Regions from separate parts of the Homo sapiens genome. Here all the other regions are linked to region 1. Evidence: fine-mapped expression QTL. A gene starts in region 1. Each other region holds a variant in brackets. All regions are shown on one strand. Distances are between the middles of the regions. Region 1 holds the start of GPSM1 (G protein signaling modulator 1). Region 2 overlaps SNAPC4 (small nuclear RNA activating complex polypeptide 4). Region 3 overlaps GPSM1 (G protein signaling modulator 1).

Evidence for each region. PIP is the estimated chance that this variant, and not a neighbour inherited with it, causes the effect.
Region 2: its variant is fine-mapped to the expression of GPSM1 in whole blood (TOPMed, PIP above 0.99).
Region 3: its variant is fine-mapped to the expression of GPSM1 in aorta (GTEx, PIP above 0.99).

What each region holds. Positions count from the first base shown.
Region 1 is chr9:136,323,727-136,330,650 of GRCh38, reverse strand. GPSM1 (G protein signaling modulator 1) reads right to left here and starts at 3,112. Exons shown (of 14, transcript NM_001145638.3): 1 at 2,888-3,112. The coding sequence starts at 2,955. It overlaps DKFZP434A062 (a long non-coding RNA gene), which reads left to right and starts at 3,328. Exons shown (of 1, transcript NR_026964.3): 1 at 3,328-6,924. RefSeq lists enhancers at 1,892-2,420, 2,421-2,950, 5,480-6,108, 6,109-6,735 and a silencer at 3,984-4,278.
Region 2 is chr9:136,379,231-136,384,230 of GRCh38, reverse strand. It overlaps SNAPC4 (small nuclear RNA activating complex polypeptide 4), which reads left to right. Exons shown (of 24, transcript NM_003086.4): 15 at 199-278; 16 at 563-1,045; 17 at 1,895-1,978; 18 at 2,158-2,407; 19 at 2,839-2,909; 20 at 3,381-3,491; 21 at 4,367-4,394; 22 at 4,932-5,000. Among named protein-coding and RNA genes, the nearest start is that of CARD9, 8.1 kb to the right of the region's middle. The variant G/A (reference allele first, on the strand shown) is at 2,276.
Region 3 is chr9:136,347,781-136,354,704 of GRCh38, reverse strand. GPSM1 (G protein signaling modulator 1) reads right to left here. Exons shown (of 14, transcript NM_001145638.3): 10 at 5,938-6,008; 11 at 4,942-5,118. Among named protein-coding and RNA genes, the nearest start is that of DNLZ, 13 kb to the left of the region's middle. RefSeq lists an enhancer at 1,694-1,988. The variant A/G (reference allele first, on the strand shown) is at 3,508.

The DNA.
Region 1 (6,924 bases):
CTGCTCACAGCTGGCTCTATCTGCCCCATCCCCCAGCCAGACACCCCCAGGGAAAACCACACCGACTCCCCTTCAGTGGCCAGGGGAGGGGAGAGAGTGAGGCGCAGGACCGGGCTGGGAGCACAGCGGGAGCTGGAATCACTGGAGAGGGGACTGAAGGTCACCCAGCTGTAGGAAGCACCTGGGGTCAGGCTTGCCAGGAATTCCTAGGGCCCGTCGCTGCCCAGCGACCCACCAGGGATGGTGCCCAGGACGGGGACAGGGGAGGGAGGAAGGATGGAGTGAAGGTAGGGGGTAGCATGGCCATGTGGCCAGAGAGGTTGCGGGGGGCCCAGTCCACACCTGAGGACGTCCTGTCTGGGAGCTGGTGACTGCTGCTTGGAGGGCATCTCTAACAGGGTCACCCCAAGGTGGGTGGCTCTGCTGCCCCTTCCCGGCCCCAGCCCCGGGGAGCACTCAGCTGGCCTTAAAGCAGGTGGGAGGCCAGGAGACGACCACCCAGGGTTTCCCCACTTTCCGGGGCCTTCTCAGCCACTGGCCTGTCCCCGCCAGGCCTCTTCACCCCAAAGCCCTGCTCTGGGCCAGGGAGCCCCTGGCAAGTGGGCCAGAATTCTGAGCATTAACTGTAGCACCCAGGGCCCTGTCCCCACCGACCCAGCACCCAGGGCCCATCCCCACTGACCCAGAACCCAAGGGCCCGTCCCCACCGACCCAGCACCCAGGGGCCCGTCCCCACCGACCCAGCACCCAGGGCCCCGTCCCCACCGACCCAGCACCCAGGGGCCCGTCCCCACCGACCCAGCACCCAGGGCCCCGTCCCCACCGACCCAGAACCCAGGGGCCCGTCCCCACCGACCCAGCACCCAGGGCCCCTCAGGGTACCCAGTGGGCTCATGGGCACATTCATGGGCCTCGCTGTCAGTGTGTTTTCCAGGCACAGTTCCCCATTTTAAAAGCTGAAACTCCTCTCTCCAGGAAGGAATGTCAGTGTGGGAAGGCAGTAGACGGGGCAGAGGAGACCTTGGGCCAACCTGGAGCCCCATCCACATTGAGGGACCCCAGTACAGCCACGTGAGGAGTGCCCACACGGATTCCGCCCACCTCCAGGGCATCCACATGCCCACCGCCCACGCCAGCAGGTGGGCCGCCCCCAGCACTCGGGTTTCAGGAGACAGGAGACTTTTCCGTGTCTTGCTCTCCAGCCCCAGCATGACAGCAAAGGGCCCTCCCGTCTGGCCCGCAGCTTCCACTGGCCCAGAACACGTCTAGGCATCCATGCTCTGAAGCCAGCTCCGACCAGGAACCGCCTGCCCAAACCGGGCTGTGGCTACACGGTGGGGTGCAGACTCCCGGGGGGACCTCGTCACAGGCCCTGCTGGAGGGCTTGGCGCGCTTCCCCCAAGTCTGGGCCTGACTCCACCCTGGAGCTCAACTGGACTCCCTGCTTAGGGGGATGCAAGGCTGGGTCTGGGGTCTCTCTGAGTGGTCCCCCTGAGCACTGCCCCTGCCAGGGGCTGGCTCCTGCCTGGCGTGTCCCCAGGGGACCCCAGGCTTCTAGCTGTAGCCTGGAGAATGCCCAACTCTATGGTCAGCTGTGCAGGCCTCACCCAAGGCTAAGGTCTTGGACACCCGTCTCTCACAGCTCCACACACACACTCTCTCACAGCTCCACACACTCACACTCAAACTCACTCCAGCCAGGGCTGCTATCCATCCCCCTCACAGCACGGCCGCCCTGGAGCACATGCGGCCCTGCACAGCCGATCAGATCAGCGGAGGAAACCCTTGAAAATCCTTTAGGGCAGGCCCCTGGCAGCAGCTGCCAGCAAAATCACCCTCACGCCCCTCCCCTGCGTGGGGCCCAGGAGCCAGGCTAGGGGCTCAGCGCTCCATCCAGGACGGCACAATGGGGCTGTGTCTGGGACCAAAGCAGAGAGCAGACCGGAGGCAGCAAGGCCTCTGTCCGCCGTGCCGCCACCAGTACCTCATTTCGGGTGCCCCAGGCAGAGGCTTGCTGCTTGGCTGGGGCCAGAGAATCCTTGGGGGCCAGGCTAGGCGCCCCCCGGGATCAGCTGCTGGGACCCCTATCAGGGAGGTCACCAGGTTTTAGGGATGTCCAGAGGACAATAGTGTCCCTCGCTCTGGGGAGCCAGGCCTGCCTCTGACGGCTGCCACCCATTCGCAAGCCCCTGCCTGGACCTCACGCTCGTGTGGCTCTGCCTGAGGCCTGGTACCACCCAGCCTTGCTTGGGGCTCCAGGCACCTGCCCGGCTGGGCCCAGGGCAGCCCCTGGGGGGACATTGGGAGTCACCAGGCAGGCATGCCACCTGGGGCAGGGCCACCCTGTCATCCCCAAAGGCGTGGGGCACAGAGCCCAGTCACTGGGATCACCCAGGAATGTGCCCGGAGAGTAGATGCCTTTTCAGGCAGGTACACACCCACCTGGCTGGCTCCCTTCCAACCCAGCTGGATCCCACTGGGCTCGTGGAGGGCTGGTGAGGGGCAGAGCCCCATCCAGAGCAGCCAGGTCTCTTTGGCCATGATGCCCCTGAGTGCCCCGGGCATGGCAGGGCCAGGCTTGGGAGGGAAGCACCCCACGGTGCCCCTGCCAGGTGCCAGGGGAGTGAGGCTGGAGAAGCTGCCCACCCCGCCTCCAGCCCCCCGGCCCCCCACCCCCTTCCCCTTGGCTTGGGGGAAAGAGGGCTTCAGGGGACGCCCACGCGGGCACACGCCGGGCTGGGCTCGGCCTGGAGGGAGGGGCGCGTCCTCAGCCACGCTGCGCGCCCGCGAGAGCTGCCTTTGTTCCCAACTGCAGCCTCCCCCGCGTCCCGACCCGGCCCGGTCCGGTCCCAGCCCCGGCCCCGGCCCCGGCCCCGGCCCGTCCTACCTGGAGTAGAGGCGCCTGGCGGCCGGGCCCGGGAGCTCGTCGGCCGCGGGCGGGGCCGGGCCCGCCATGGGTCGGGGACGCGGGAGCGGGAGCCGGGAGCGCCCCCCGCGCCGTGGCCGTCCGCCCCCTGCCCGCCCTGCTGTCCTCCCTGCTGTCCGCCCTGCTGTCCGCCTGTCCGTCCGCGCCTCGTTCGCCCGTCCTCCCCCGGGGAGGCGCCGAGGAAGTGATGTGCGCGGGGCGCCGCCGCCCCTCCCGCCGCCGTGGCCGTGATGTCACCGCCGCCCGCGCGGGGAGGGGGCGCGGACCGGGCGGCCACCGCCGCGTGCCTCCCTCTGCGGGGGGCGGGGCGGACGCGGGGGGAGGGGCGCCGTGAGGCGGGCAGTCCCCGGGGAGGGGGGAGGGGGGAGGGGGTGTGGGCCCCAGCCCACCCCACCCCAGGGAATGCAGGGGAGAGGGCCTGGGCCTGGCCTTGCTGCTGGTCCCCTGGGGACTTCTGAGGGCCCGCGGGGGTCCCTGGGTCACAGTGCAGCCACACTGGCCTCTGGGCTCCTTTCATCCACAGGCCGCCTGGTGAGCCCCGCAGCCTCACCCACGTGGGGAGGGGCTGCTGAGGCCTCCTTGCCTTTCTTGGTGGGCGCCCTACGCCTCGGGGGTCCTACCCTCCTCTTCTGTGCAGCCCCAACGTGGCTTTGCCCCCTTCTCCAAACTTCTGCCTTGGGCCATGGGGCGCAGGCCGTGGGGATGCTGTCTGCCTGCTTTAGAGAAACCTGGGGCACCGATGACAAATACAGGCTCTGCTTGGCCTGTGGGACGGTTGGTAAGCCCCCCACCTCTGAGACCCTGGGTGGCCACATTCCCCTCCCAAGCTCCCCCGGAATGGGGATGCAGCCTGCCCCTTCCTTCCTCCTGGGCACTGTGCAGGCTTAGGGAGGATGCAGGTGGCACAGTAGGCTGTGCCCACCCGGGGTCCCGGGACCCCAGCCCCTACCGCCTCCTCCTCCTCCTCTGAATTCTTGGAGCCCTGTGGGCCTATGTGGTGTGACGTGGCTTCCCCTCCACCCACCCTCAGCTCCCGATGGCTTGGGGGGTTCTCCGCAGCCAGCGAGGCCCACAGCCGGCCTCCCCGGGTTCTGTCCTGCCCCCGACAGCATCCTGGGCCTTCCGGTGGTGTCAGGAGACTCCAGGCCCTTGAAAGGCAGCTGCGACCCCGGGTATGACTCGGAGAAGTCCAGGAGCAGGAAATGGGCTGCATTCCTTCGGGGCCCCTCCGTGCACCCCAGCCCCTCCCTGGGAGAGCTGCCCTGAGGTCAGGAAAGTGCCGTCCTGGCAAGACCCTCAGCAGCTGCCGCCCACAGGACAGTCAGCGTTTTCAAGCATGGGAAGGAAAATAAACACGAGGTTAAAAAGGGGTCTGTTGGCCCCGGGCTGGTTTGTTTTTCCTGTGTAAGGGAGGCAACGGGAATGAGAACCATCTGTGCCCTGAGCGCAGCGCAAGCTGCCTGCTGGGCCCACGTGCCCTCCCCCAAAGACCACAGAAGCCAGGCAGAGCCTTGCTCCCTTCCAGCCGGGGCCGTGGCTGCTGGCCGGCAGGGACAGTGGTGTTGGCTGGGGCACCACCCTCCTTTGCCACAGCCCTGGGCCTGGCTGCGGGCAGAGAACAGGCCTTCGATTGAAGCTCCAACCTTCCGGGCCACCTCCTTTGGGCTTCGGGCACCTGAGCCAGCATCCCATTGTAAGGGCAGGGGCTGCTGGGGGCCCTGCCTGTGCCAGGCCTCAGCTCAGCCCTCTTTCCCCAGGCGCTGCTGCCATCAGGAGGCCCACAGAGGGTCCACACCAACACTGTGAGCCCCTTGTGGGTCCCCTGGGTTAGTGGTGGGAGGCTGGTGAAGAGAAGTGGGGACAAAAGACATTGCACAAATGGTGGAGGGAGGGAGAGATTTGCAGCCTCGTAGCTGTCATTGCTGGGGGAGCTTCTCCTGGTCTCCTTCCTTGATGCAGAGAGCTGGGAGCTTGTGTCCCTGGGCCGGGAGAGCCCCAACATTATATCAGAACTTGTGGGGAAACCTGCACCCCCGAGGGCTCTGGCTTTGTTAGGCCGAGCTGGGCTATGAGGCTGTGTGACCTGGCACAAGTTGCTTTCCCTCTCTGAGCCTCGGTTCTGTCACCTGAGGGCTGCCCGTCCCGCAAGGTGTGGAGGGTCACTGAGGCGTGGGGTTTCTGCGGTGCTTGTCCATGTGCCTGGCACACAGTGGGGTTTGTGCAGTGCTTGTCCATGTGCCTAGTGGCTCACAGTGGGGTTTGTGCGGTGCTTGTCCGTGTGCCTGGCACACGGTGGGGTTTGTGTGGTGCGTGTCCATGTGCCTGGCACACAGCGAGAGCTGCTGGGGTCATGTTGCTCTCACACTCGTGCCTGCCCCTGCTGGGCCCCTGCAGTGGGTCCTGGCTGGATTGGGGGTACATCCCCACCACACTGCACAGAGGGGCGTCTCCTCCTATCCAGGGACCTGATTCTCCTGTCGAGAAAACCTATGAAGGGGACCCAGAGATGGAGTGTGACAAGGCCAGGTGACAGGCCTGACATGTGGTGTCCACATCCAGAAGGGAGACCCTGGAGGGATGACCCTCCACTGCCACCCCCTCCCATCAGGCTCTGGACACCCTCGAGCCTCCCACCATCCACCTTACCAGATCCCCCCAAGAGTCCGGGAAGCTCACTCCCCCAGGGGACCAGGAGCACAGCCCCTTCCATTCCTAACGGGCCTGACTCCCAAAGGGGGGTGAGGAAAGAAAAAGCCATTTCACATCGACTTATTCTTCTGGCCCCAGGCAGCAGCACAGGGCGCAGGGTGGGCCTCTGCAGACACGATGGCTCCGTGGTCAGGGAGGGGCCACCTCCCATGTGCCTGGGGAGGGGCCCTCCCAAGCCCCTGCGTGGCAGCGCCAAGGGGTTGGAGTCAGCCCCAGCACACACAGGGCCCTGCTCACTGGTGGCCATTGTCAGCGCCACCTCCACCTTCAGGAGCCTGCCACGTGCCTGCCCTCGGTCACTTAGCCCTCCCTGGCACGCACCACTTTGTCCACACACCCTGTGTGTAAGTGGTGACAGCGGTGACAGCTCAGGCGTCACCTGATCGGGCCGACTCTAAGCCTTAGTCCTTCCTTGTCCTGTTGCGCCGGACAAGCCTCTGGGAGGCGACGGTGGGACAGCCACAGGGTTCTTGGCTCAGCCCCCAGGAGTGGGGAGCTGGGGCTCTGGACGGAGGTGGGCACTCGAGGCTGGTGTGGCCTCCTGGGTGAGGGCCAGGCTCGGGAGAGGCAGCCAGGCGGCCCCAAGCCACCCCAGGAACAAAGCACCAGCACACACCTCCACTGGTTTGCTAGGGCTGGGAGAAGTTGGAGTGTTTCTGTGGTGGCTGTGGCAGCCCACGGCCCCAAGACCCTGGCTTCCTTCTGCTCCCACCTTTTCAGGCCCCTTCCCCAACAAGCAGCTACTGTAGGACCCAGTGGGGGCTAGGGCACCAGCAGCTGCCATTACCCATGCTGGGTCCTGATGGTTCCTGACCAGCCTCAACCGTGGATTCCAAGCTGGGGAAGGAAGAAGCAGGCCGGGAGTGGGGAGGGAGACAGTGAAGGACACCCAAACACACACACACACACACACACACACACACACACACACACACACACAGAAGGAACAGTTTCAGCTTTGTTTCCCAGTAATCTCACTTAAAAAGAACACTTGGGTTTACCATGTTCACATAATCTCGTTGCTCTGAGAATGAACTTATTCTTCCTCCCAGCTTGGCCATGTGTTCCTCCCCATTGCCCAAGTCCCCTCATGACATCATCTCCCACTGCCATGTCCTTTCCTTGGGGACCTCCAAGTCCCTGGAGTTTGGGGACTGCAGGGTGGGTGGAGGGGCCCACAAGCTCTGCAGGGAGCCAGAAGGAAACGGTCTGTCCCACCCCAGGGCTGAGCACCTCGCTGGGAGATGATACCCACACCTGGAAATAGCTCAAGGGCCGCGTGAGGCCGC
Region 2 (5,000 bases), 55 kb before region 1:
TTTCCTAAGGGGCTGAGCATCCAATGAGAATCAGATGCTGCCAAATTGTAGGCACCCAACATGCTTGACCCCCCAGCGTGAGAGTGCACAGGAGGCTCCACTCTGATGGGGCCACGGCGAGTCTCCTGGGGAACAGCAAGCCTGTCCTGGGGAAGAATCTTTGGATGAAGGCATTTCCATGGGGTTTGGCTTTTGCAGGTCACTGGGCAAAAATAGCTTCTGAGCTGCCCCATCGGTCTGGCTCCCAGTGTCTGAGCAAGTGGAAGATCATGATGGGGGTGAGCCACTCGCTCCTTCTTTATCTGAAACCAGACAATGGCCTGGTCAACTGGGGGGTCCAGCAGGCAGGAGGAGGGGAGGGGAGGGGGGCGTTCGGTTTCTGGTCTTGGCATTTCTTCTTCTGGGTGGCCAAGGGCAAAGGGAGACCCTGCCTCGGCAGCGGCTGCTCTTGACCCCGGAGGCGCCCCCGCTTGGGCCTCTCCCCAAAGGGCTGGCCTGCTTGCTGCCATCATGGGTGAACCGGGCTTGCCAAGGCCTCTAAGTAGCTCTTTCCTCCCCTCAGAAGAAGCAGGGTCTCCGGAGGCGGCGGCGGAGGGCCCGTCACAGCGTCCGGTGGAGCTCTACCAGCAGCAGCGGCAGCAGCAGTGGCAGCAGTGGAGGGAGCAGCAGCAGCAGCAGCAGCAGCAGCGAGGAGGACGAGCCAGAGCAGGCGCAGGCCGGGGAGGGTGACAGAGCGCTGCTGTCCCCACAGTACATGGTCCCGGACATGGACCTGTGGGTTCCTGCCAGGCAGAGCACCAGCCAGCCATGGAGAGGAGGGGCAGGGGCCTGGCTGGGAGGCCCCGCTGCCTCCCTCAGCCCTCCCAAGGGGTCCAGTGCCAGCCAGGGCGGCAGCAAGGAAGCTTCCACCACAGCCGCGGCTCCTGGAGAGGAGACGAGTCCGGTGCAGGTCCCTGCCAGGGCCCACGGCCCTGTCCCGAGGTCTGCCCAGGCCTCCCACTCAGCAGACACTCGCCCGGCGGGCGCAGAGAAGCAGGCCCTGGAGGTAGGCCCCGGCCCTGGGTGTACCACGGGAAGTGCACTTTCGGCACTCGCTCGCCAGGGCTGACGCTTGGGGATAGTGCAGCAGCAGGGGCCCCAGGGTTCGTGTGCATCAGAACGTGCTACTTCTGGCTGAGCTCTGGACAGCTGTGCGTCGGGGGGACTGTTGGGGAAGCCTCCATTTTTCCTGGCTTGTTGACTGTTTCAGGGGTATGGCTGAATGGGCACTTGGACCTGGAGGCATTTCTGAAACATTTCACCCCCAAGCCAGGGTTGGGGAGGGCAGAGGCAGCAGTGGGAGGAGCCCCTCCTCCCTCCTCGTGAGCCTGTGCACCTGGAGGCCCTCCCTGGGAAGGGCCTGTCCACCTGCTTGGGACAAGCCTGGCTTGTGGTGTGTCTGCTCGTCTTGGCTGGTCTTCACCGTGTCAGGCCCATCTCTGGCCATGTCTGTGGGAGCAGTCAGAGTTGAACAGGCTGGTCTGTCCTGGGAGTCATTGGCAGGGACAGTGGACACTGAAGCTACTGGCAGAGCTAGGTGCATGGGGCTCGCTGCTGCACAGCCAGCATCTCCCTAGGCCGGGGCGTCACCTGGAAGGGCTGCTGCTGTCAGCCTGAGGAACTGGCTGGGGGGCATGGGACCCTGTTAATGTCCCAGGAGCCAGGCCTAGCTGGGAGGCCCTGCCTGGGGAACCCACGCTTCCCATGGTGGACGTTCCCATGAGGCAGAGCAGAGCTGTACACAGCCACGCTTTGGAGCCTGGGTGAAGAGGCAGTCGTGTGTGGGCAGCGAGGGGAGGGCCCCCATGTGTCCCGTACACCCCGCGTGCCTCGCCTCAGGCAGCTTTCTCATCAGGGTGGGAGGCGTCTGCTGACAGTGCCTGTGGAGACCGTGCTGAGGGTGCTCAGGGCCAACACGGCTGCTCGGAGCTGCACACAGGTGAGGCCTGCTGCAGACACCCACGCGCACGCCACCACGTGCCCCGCCCTGGTCTGAGTGATTCCTCTCCCCGTCGATCATGCCCTGATGGGGGTGGAGGGCAGCACTGGCCACTGGGCAGGGTCCACTCCGGGGGCCGAGCCTGGCCATGGGCCCCAGGTGCTGCCTTCTCCTTACAGAAAGAGCAGCTGAGGCAGCCACCCCTGCCCACCTCATCCCCAGGGGTCAGCTCTGGTGACAGCGTGGCCCGATCCCATGTGCAGTGGCTACGGCACAGAGCCACCCAGAGTGGGCAGC[G/A]GCGCTGGAGACACGCTCTGCACCGGAGGCTCCTGAACCGCAGGCTGCTGCTGGCTGTGACCCCTTGGGTAGGGGACGTTGTCGTGCCCTGCACACAGGCTTCCCAGAGACCCGCCGTAGTGCAGACTCAAGGTATGGCCTGGGGCTCCTCTGGGAGCATCCTGGGGGCGAGGGGTGAGGATGAAGAGTACATCCAGCCTAGCAGACGGTGGCTACTTGGGGAAGTGGCCTCAGCAGGGGAGTCTTTTTGGGGTGGGCGCCACCTCTGGTCAGCTTCCCGTCCCTGAAGGTTTCCAGGACACCCAGTCACAGCCAGCCCTCCCTCCCTACCCCACCACTCTTCCTGGGCCAAGCATGTGGCAGCTTGGTGGTGACAGGGCTCACAGGGCCCACCCTTGTCCAGGCGTGGCTGTGGGGTGCTGGTTCCAAGGCCTCCCCTCCCACCCTGGCCTGGCTCCCAGAGCCGCCTCGAAAGGCACGTGGGAGCTGGGGCTGCTTTCCACCCATCCCCCTGTGCCCATGGGAGCTGGGGCTGCTTTCCACTTATCCCCCTGTGCCCGCAGCGGATGGCCTCAGGGAGCAGCTGCAGCAGGCCCGCCTGGCCAGCACCCCTGTGTTTACCCTGTTTACCCAGGTAAGCTACTTGGGCAGAGCTTCGTTTTCCTTTGCCTTGTAAAAAGTTTTTGGTGAAGTTTTGAAATCTGCAGTAGATTCATTCCTTAAAGTCTAGCTATCTAAAGTTTTCTAGCCTTGAAAATGCACTTTTCATGCCTTACACTGTTAGCAAGTGAATGTGGAAGGGGTGCCGGCTACAGTGTGCACTGCCCCCATCGGGCTAAACAGTGTCCGGGGAAGGGGGTCCCCGGGGCCCCAGTATGAGTGGAAGATGCCGGGGGAGGAGAGCAGGCCTGGGTCTCATGGGAGGCCATCCTGGATGTCCACAGCCTCATGGCCTCCCCTGCATCTGCATCAGAAGGGCAGGAAGGCTGAGGTCTCAAGGTAGCCGCCCCAGCCTCAGGGCTGCCCCAGGTTCTGCCTAGGCCTCTGGAGCTTCGGAGCTGCTCCCGAAAGCAGCTATGGTTAGGTTGCCTCCTGTGTCCCGCAGCTGTTCCACATCGATACTGCCGGCTGCTTGGAGGTCGTCCGAGAGAGGAAGGCCCTGCCACCCAGGCTGCCCCAGGCTGGTGCTCGGGACCCACCAGTTCATCTTCTGCAGGTAGCAGGCACTTGGGGTGAGAAGTGAGGATGGCCACTGCCCGCCCCGGCGTTGGAGTGGGTTTCCACGGAGGCTGGCTGCCCGCCCCACCCGCTCCACCGCAGCCCCTCAGGGAGGCATCTGCACTTCCCACCTGAGGGGACGCAGCCTTGAGAGGCCCTGGGGAAGTCAGGCAGGTGCAGGTCGGGGCTGACACTGGGGCCCACGTGCCTGTTTTCCCCCATAGCCCCGCTGGGCGGTCATGGACATGGGCGCTGTCTGCCGGGGATGCCTGGTTCTTGCCTTTCTGCTCCAGAAACCAAACTCACAGAAGTTCAGCGAGGCCTCCTCACCCTTGAGCCCCGTCACCTGGGGGTGGGGTGACAAAGCAGTGTCACTCATTGGAGGAGCAGGAACAGCAGTGGGGTACCCCTGGGCCTCTGTGCTTCCAGCCCCCCCGCCTCTCCCTGCAGACCCCACCCTGCCCCCAACCCCCCAGAAGAGCTCTTGAGGGCACCCTTAGGAGGAGCTGCACTGGCAGGGGGAACAAGGCCAGGCCTTTGCCTGCTGTGCAGGGCACGACAACGTCCCCTACCCAAGGGGTCACAGCCAGCAGCAGCCTGCGGTTCAGGAGCCTCCGGTGCAGAGCGTGTCTCCAGCACCGCTGCCCACTCTGGGTGGCTCTGTGCCGTAGCCACTGGACATGGGATCGGGCCACATGCTTGGCTCCTTCTGTGGCCCCGGAGTTCCTACAGAGGCGTGTGGGAGGCCAGCACCAGCCCTTGGGGCCTCGTCCCATTTCAGGGAGTGGCAGGGGATAGTCCAGATGCTAGGAGAGGTGGTCCAAGCCAGCAGAGGACACCTGAGCTGCTGACTCTCCTCTCTTTCATTTCCAGGCATCCTCAAGTGCCCAGAGCACCCCAGGTAACTCTGCTTCTCTGCCCTGGTGGGGAAGAGACCTAACCTGGCCCTGGCGGGGAAGAGGCCTAACCTGGCCCTGGCTTTCACCCACAGCCCCCAAGCAGCACAGCCTGTGGCCCCTGGTGACAGAGCTCCCTCGAGTCCCACCACAGGGATGAGAGTCCGGCTGGGCCAGCTTGGAGCTCCCTGGGCTCCCCTTGCAGCCCTAAGGCTTCCCCAGCATGGGGCCCAGAGGCAGGGGTCGTCTGGAGCGAGCGTCCGCCCATGCCCAACACCGGCAAGCTGGGCTGCCGGCTGATCTCAGCCAGCATTAAATGGGCTGGGTTTCCCAGAGTGCCCACTGCCCTGGCTTTGGCCGGAGCATTGCCATCTGGGGTAGCCACTGTGACTTGGGAGACCCAGGATGTGCCGCTTGACCCTCTCTTGGCTCAAGACCCCAGGCTCCCCACATGGTCCCTCCTGATGAGGGGATGGCAGCGAGGGGCTGTCCCTGGGCCAGATGCCTGGGGCTTATCAAGTGTGGGTCTTTCCTCCCCACAGGCCACCTCTTCCCAAACGTGCCGGCTCAAGAAGCCTCAAAGAGTGCCAGCCACAAAGGGAGCCGAAGAC
Region 3 (6,924 bases), 24 kb before region 1:
GTGGCCCCCCAAGGGGCCCAGCTGAAGCAGGTCCACCCCGTGACCCAGCCTCACAGGGCCTGGTCCGGGCCCCAGGGCTGAAGGGTGTTTGTGATGGTTCCAAGCCCCGTCCACCTCCCGACCGGCGCTGGCAGCCCCTGCCCGGCCCCAGCCTGTCCATCTCACGGCTGGTGGCCTCTTCCAGGTCTGCAAATGCTGGGCTCACAGCTGAACGAGTTAACAAGAGACGCAATGTTGGTGGAGATGGCACCTCCCGGGTCCCCGATGCTGCCTGGAATTCCCAATACCTGACCCCCACAGCCCAGGAGACGGACAGCTGTCTGACAGACAACTGGAATTCCCGACACCTGACCCCCACAGCCCAGGACTAGGGCTCCCGTCCTGCTTCCAGTTTTCTGCTGGACTCGGCCCAGGGCACAGGAGAGTGGGGCCTAGAGACATGTGTGACCTACCCAAGGTCATGCTGGAGCAAAAAAGAGCTGGGATTCAGACCCTTGAGCTGAGCCGAGGGCCCTGTGGACAGCCCTGTTTTAGGAGAGACCCCACCTGGCTCTGGCCCCTGGAGTCAGTCCCCAGCTGTCACGGAAGCCTGAGGTACCTCCTGTCCCTGAGGCAGACCTGAGGAGGGAGAGTTCTAGCACCCCCTTCTCCCCGCAGGGCTCTCCTCCTGCAGCCTGGCTCAGGCCTAAGGCAACACCCCCACTCCCCCGGATTCCCCAGCCAGGAGGGAGGGGAGAATTGGCCCAGTCTGTGGGGAGGGCCACATCCACTTGGGCCAGGGCTCTGGGAGCTGCAGGTCCAGGCAGAGGGTGGCACTGGGGTTGCCAGCCTGAGTGCCAGTTGGGGCCACACAGGTACCTCCCCAGGAGGATGTGGCCTCCTGGTCTAAAAGGAACTGGCTCCTGGGCTATGATGACCTAGGGCACAGCCGCGGGGGGCCTCTGCCTCTGGCCCAATCTGGACTCCCCCAGGTGACCCGGGGCCCAGGTGGACTGAGCAAGGTCCCTCCTGGGAAAGGCAGGACCCGTCAGGGGCCATGTCCCAGGCCCCATGGCAGAGCCCCTCTCAGGGTCCTATGTCGGGCAGCCCTCCCCTTCCCTGAGGCTGGGGCCAGCTGTTGAGGGGCTGATGCCTCCCTCACATGGGGGCAGGGGCCCACGACTGCAGGTGCAAAACCGTGGCTCAGTGCCTGGTACGGGGAAAGGCTCTGGATAGTTTGGGGCTCCTGGAGCCCCTCAGAAGCAGGACCCTGGGCCCCAAGGCCACCTTCCCCTGCATTTATGTCCCAGTAGAACATATCCAGTGGGACTCGGGGTTCCGCCTCCCTGCTCTAACCTCTCCCTTGCCCCAAGCCCTGGCTCCCTCCTTCCCGGAGGCCTCAGAGTCCCTCCTGCAGTCTGACTCTAGTCTCTCTTGCTTTGGCACAAGCCCAGTTTCTCCTGCGGAGGAGGGGAATGCACCCGGCCCAAGACCACCCCACCCGGCTTCACAGAGGCCCGTGTGCTCCCTCAGCCTCCACCTGTTAGGACCCCAGGGACCCCAGACTCACGCGGATCACAGGCTGTCTCCACAGCAGCAGGGAGCCACGCTGGGTGCTTGGCCACACAGAGCGCAGGCAGGACACAAGGTGCCCAGGGCCACCACCGCCCTGCCCAAAGTGCCAAGTGCTGCCTCAATGCTGGGATGCCTGAGGCTTAAATAGGACCCTGGGCAAGGGCTCGGCCCTCCTAGCGCCCGCCCCTGCTCACTTGAGTGCGTGCACACACACAGGCTCACACACACGCACGTGGGCTCGCACTCACACACAGGCGCACTCCGTAAACACTCCCCCAGCAAGTGCAGCAGTGAACCTCCCCCTCCCCGTGCCTGTGGGCGGGCACACTGGAGGGCTGTGTGGGCAGACAGCCTGCCGAAGAGCCCTTTTCCCGCTGACACCTGGGCCCCTGGGCCTCCCTCCAGAGCTGGGCCAGGTGGGGAAAGCCACCTCTTTATTCAGCCTGACTACGGAGGCAGGCGCAGAGGACCTGGGCGGGTTGCTGTCCTCATCTGGACTCCTCTGTCCGGGACGGCCCTTCCTGTCCCACAGCCCTCGGTGGCTCCCCAGTGCCCTGGCTCAAGGGCCTCCCGGCCAGCTCAACTCAAGCCTCTGGTTGCTGCCTCTCTGTCTCATTCCTGGTTGGACCTACACTGTCTCCAGCCTCTGAGGCCAACCCTGCCCTGTCCCCTACCCTCCACCCCAGAATGAGTTCTCTGGACCCCCAGACCACACCCAGCCACACCGCCTCAGATCCCAAAGCCCCGAATGTGCTGGCTGCAAGGCCCCTGCACTGTCTGGGCACAGGGTGGGGAGGGGCAGGGGCTGGTTGGTCACCAACAGCAACGGCGCAGCATCGGTGTCACCAACAGCAACGGCGCAGCATCGGTGTCACCAACAGCAACGGCGCAGCATCGGTGTCACCAACAGCAACGGCGCAGCATCGGTGTCACCAACAGCAACGGCGCAGCATCGGTGTCACCAACAGCAACGGCGCAGCATTGGTGTCACCAACAGCAACGGCGCAGCATTGGTGTCACCAACAGCAACGGCGCAGCATTGGTGTCACCAACAGCAACGGCGCAGTATTGGTGTCACCAACAGCAACGGCGCAGTATTGGTATCAGCTGCACTTTGCAGATGAGGACCCCAACTGAGAGCTGAAAGCCCTTCCCTGAGGACCCCAGCAGAGGGGGAAGGGGGCCCACCCGGCCACTGACGCCCCAGGGATGTATCCCCCACCCACCCTCGCTGCAGTCCCCATACAGGCTGCCACCAGGGTGCAGACGGTCCTTACTCGGAGGTACCCAAGGTTCTGACCTCGGTAAGGCCAGTGGGGTTCAGGTCAGCAGAAAGCCAAGAGGCCCTGCCACGTCCTCACAGACCCTGGGAACCCCGTTTGTCTGGGGCCAGGATCTTGGCTGTCCCAGGCGTCCTGCCCCGCGGTGGTTGCAGGGGCCAGGGGAGCAGGGCCCGCAGCAGGTGGGGGCTCCCTGGGGCCCTGGCCAAGGCCTCCAGAGTGCTGGGCCAGGCAGCTGGACACTTGGAACTGTGTCCCCTTGCCCTGCTGGCCCAGACCCAGGGCAGTTTGTTGGGGTGACGTGAAGCCTGGAAGCCCTCAGAGGCTGTGCTTTCTAGAAAGCCATCAGCCCCTGAGGCCGGCTGACTGGTCTGTCCCACACATGCTGCCAGCCTCCCACTCCTTCCTTGGCGGCCCAGATGTGATGGGCAGAGCCAGCTGTGGACAGGGCAGACCCAGCTGTGGACAGGGCAGGGCCAGCTGTGGACAGGGCAGGTGTCTGGGTCCCAGTCCTGCTCCTCCCTCCAGGCCCAGGGAGGCTGGGGGATCACCGGGACCCCCGGGAAGGCCTGACCAGGTGCTCCCTGGGTGCCCTTCCCTCCACACCTCTCCCATCAGTGGACGGATGGACCTAGCCCAGATGGTTGGGCAGTGCTGGGGCTGAATGAGGGGA[A/G]GGTAGGCTGTGCCCTGCTGGTGGGAAGGATGGGCTTGGGCAGCCTCGGGGGGCTGCGAATCCCAGCCCAGCACCCACACCCCTCTGCAGGTTGGTGCCCACGGAAGAACAATTTCAGACTATTTCTAGTGGTTTGGACCCAGCCGTCCTGCTCGGGGGAGCTCCAGGCTGACCTCCGAACCCGGACTCGGCCCATCGGTGCCCCTGAACACCAACCAGCTCTCCCGTGGCTGGGGTGGCCCTGGCACAGCTGACACCTGCCAGGCACAGGCCCGGCCTGTCACCTGTCCCCCCACCAACCCCGAGTCTGACCACCAGTCTGTCTGTCCCCCGTCCGTCCACCCATACACTTGGCAGTCACTGCAACTGCCCCACCCCTCCCGCCACCTCTGTGTGCCACAGCAACGCGGGGGGCTCCTGGCTAGCCCTGAGGACCCGGGTGGCGCCCAGGCTGCGCTGCTGCTGCTTGCTGGGCTGTGACCCTCTGCTCCACTCGTGACCTTGAGCCCAGGTGGGGTAGGGCAGGGTGGGGCCTCCCAGCCCCTGACCAGGAGGAACCCTGAGTGGACCTAGCCCCTTGCTGTCCCCTCACCAGGGGCTCTGCAGCCATGCACAGGCCACCCAGCTGCATCCCCTCCATGACCCCACTCACCATCGGTCCTGCCCCGGCCCCTGCACCCACAAGGAGAGGCCCCAGTACCTTGGCCCAGCTGGAGCTGCAGGTGCTTCCACACCAGGGCCTGACCATGGGTGTGGCTTAGGGGCTTCCCACCCACCCCTTGGGTGCCCCTCAGGCCCCTCTGCTCAGGGACCCCCGCCAGGTGTCAGAGATCCCAGGATTCCCCCAGGGACTGTGTTGGCCTCGTCCACCCCTCCAGGGCCCTGGTAGGATACACAGGCTTGACCTCACTGGCCAGAGCCTCCAAGAGCCACCTCAGGAAGGGGCACCCCATCAGGGGATCTGTGCAGCCCGGCTCTCACAGTGAAGGCAGCCAGTTCCTTTCAGGGACACGCTCCTGTGACTAGCGGATGGGTCTGGAGGGTCCCAACAAAGGAGGGTGGGGGCTGGAGTCAGAGAGAGAGGCCACCTGAAGGCTGGGAAGAGCCAGCCCCCAACTGGTGAACAAGATGGAAACTGAGGCCCAAAGAGAGGCGGGGCGTTCCATGCAGAAGAGCCCAGCCTAGAGTCCCCAGGAGGCTCCTCGGTGGCCGGGGCCTCTGAGGCCAGGTGCGACCACAATGCTAAACACTGAGCCCTGCCCAGAGCCCCCACCGGGGTCCCAGGACAGCACTGCACCAGGTGCACCGGGGAGGGACCCCTGCCTCCCCGGAGTGCCCGGGCCTGACCTGGCCCCGTTGGCTGGCAGTGGAGTTGGGGCGCAGTTGCCAAGCTCTCCTCCCTCTCGGCCTGGATCTGCCGTCAAAGACGCCTACCGTGCGTGGCACGTGCACCCGGACGTCGGCGCTGTCCAGCGGGGAGTGGCTGCCCTCCCGGGGCCTCCTCTCAGCGTCCGGGCCTTCCTGGTACTTCCTGCTCCTCACGGGGAGGGGTAGCGAGTCCCTGCTGGGCCCCCGCCAGTCCCCTGAATGGTGGCTGTCTCCATTCTGCTCCTGGGGAGGGGTAAGGCTGTGCGTGGCCTGGGCAATTGTGAACCAATGTCCCCATCCCAGGACCCTGAAGGGAAGGCCAGGCCGCCTCCATTTCATGGATGCACGCCGTAGGTGCCCAGTACCCAGAGAGGAGGAGAGGACTGGGGCTGTGGGCCCTTGGCTGGGGCCGGGAGAGGCAGGGTGGGGTGTTTGAGGGCCAGTGGCCCCCGCAAATGTCAGCCGGCTTATACCAGCAATGACAGTGACTGTGGGCGTCCTTGGGTCTCGTCCCCACAGCAGAACCCTGACGGCCATCCACAACTGAACACAGGCCACACCAGAGGAACCAGAGGCTCAGAGAGATCAGGCTGCTGGCCCAGGCCACACAGCACCCACTGCCGACAGGCACAGGGCCAGCCCAGGGCCCTACGCCAGGCAGCCCCCGAATCTGTCTGTGTGGGTCTGCTGAACCCCAGCCAGTGTCTGCACCTGCAGCAGCTGTGCCCACTTTGGGTCAGAGTCCGAGAGGGCAGGGAGCAGGCAGGAGTGGGTGCCCCTGTCTGTGGGCTCCCGAGGGTGTGGTGGCATAGCAGCTGGGTGGAGTATGGGGGCCTGAAATGTGTGAGGACCATGCCTCGCCTGGGGCACAGCTGGCCAGACGCTGAGGGACATGGGTGAGCAGGTGGCAGATGGGCCATGCAGGGCATCAGGCCGAGGAGGGCACATTTATCTCCCAGCAGACAGGGGCTGAGGTGGGTGGCGGTGGCTCTGCCTCATTAACCCCGCTGCCCATGCTCTGGCAGCGGCTGTGCTGACATCGGTCCCGTGTCCCTGGCTCACCCGCTCCAGGGGGAGTCTCAGCAGGTCCCAGGTCTCCGCGCTCAGCCTCTGCGTCCTCTTGGGTCTGGCCCCTGAAGACAGAGGGACCCGGTCAGCCCAGCACCACCCTGGCACCTCGCATTGGGTGGGCCAGGCCAGAGTCTCTGGGGGGCCAAGGACCAGCCCGGCCATGGCTTTCTGACAGCCAGCCCCCCTTGTGGAGGCGAGCGCCATGTCTGAGTGTCCTCTGCGTCTCCCCGACTGTACTGTCAGAGTCAAAGGGGACAGGTGTCGAGACAGAGCGCGTCCTGGCTGGGGCCAGGTGGGGTCTGGCTTTGGCTCCCTGTGCTGGAAGGGCCCGGCTCTGGACAGGCCTCTCCCCTGCCGCACACAGGGCCTCCCCCGTCAGTCCTGCTGTTCCCTCTGCCTGGATCACCCTTCCTGTGGCCCCTGGTCACCTCTGTGAGGCCACCCAATCCCCCCTCCTGAGGGTGCATCATGCTGTGCCCCGGAGGCAGGTGGGGCGGGCCTGTGGGTCCACTCCCAGCTCACTGCGGGCAGCCCAGGCCAGGGTCGGGGACGCAAAGGCCTCAGATGAATCCCCCAGACCAGCTCTGCCGTGGGACCTTCCCCGGGCTCCTGTCCATCCCTCCTGGCCCGGGGCTCACCCTACTGGCCGTGTCTCCACCCAAGGGACCCCCATCCCCTCTAGCCGCAGTGGGGTGGTGGGGCACAGCTGCCTGACCCAACACTGGCCAGCTGCAGACTCAGCGGAGCCACCAGTGCCTGTCCCGGGCCCCTGGGAAGCCCCACAGCCAGGCCCACCTTCAAGCCTCAGTCCCAACACGGCCCTGGCAGAGACGGGTGTCACTCAGCCCTGTCCCAACACAGCCCTGGCAGAGACGGGTGTCGCTCAGCCCTGCGGGGCCCGAAAGGATTTGGGAGTTTGGGAGAGTGGGCCCTACCTCAGCCCAGCCGCTCCCTGAGCACTCTCAGGAGCCTGTATCC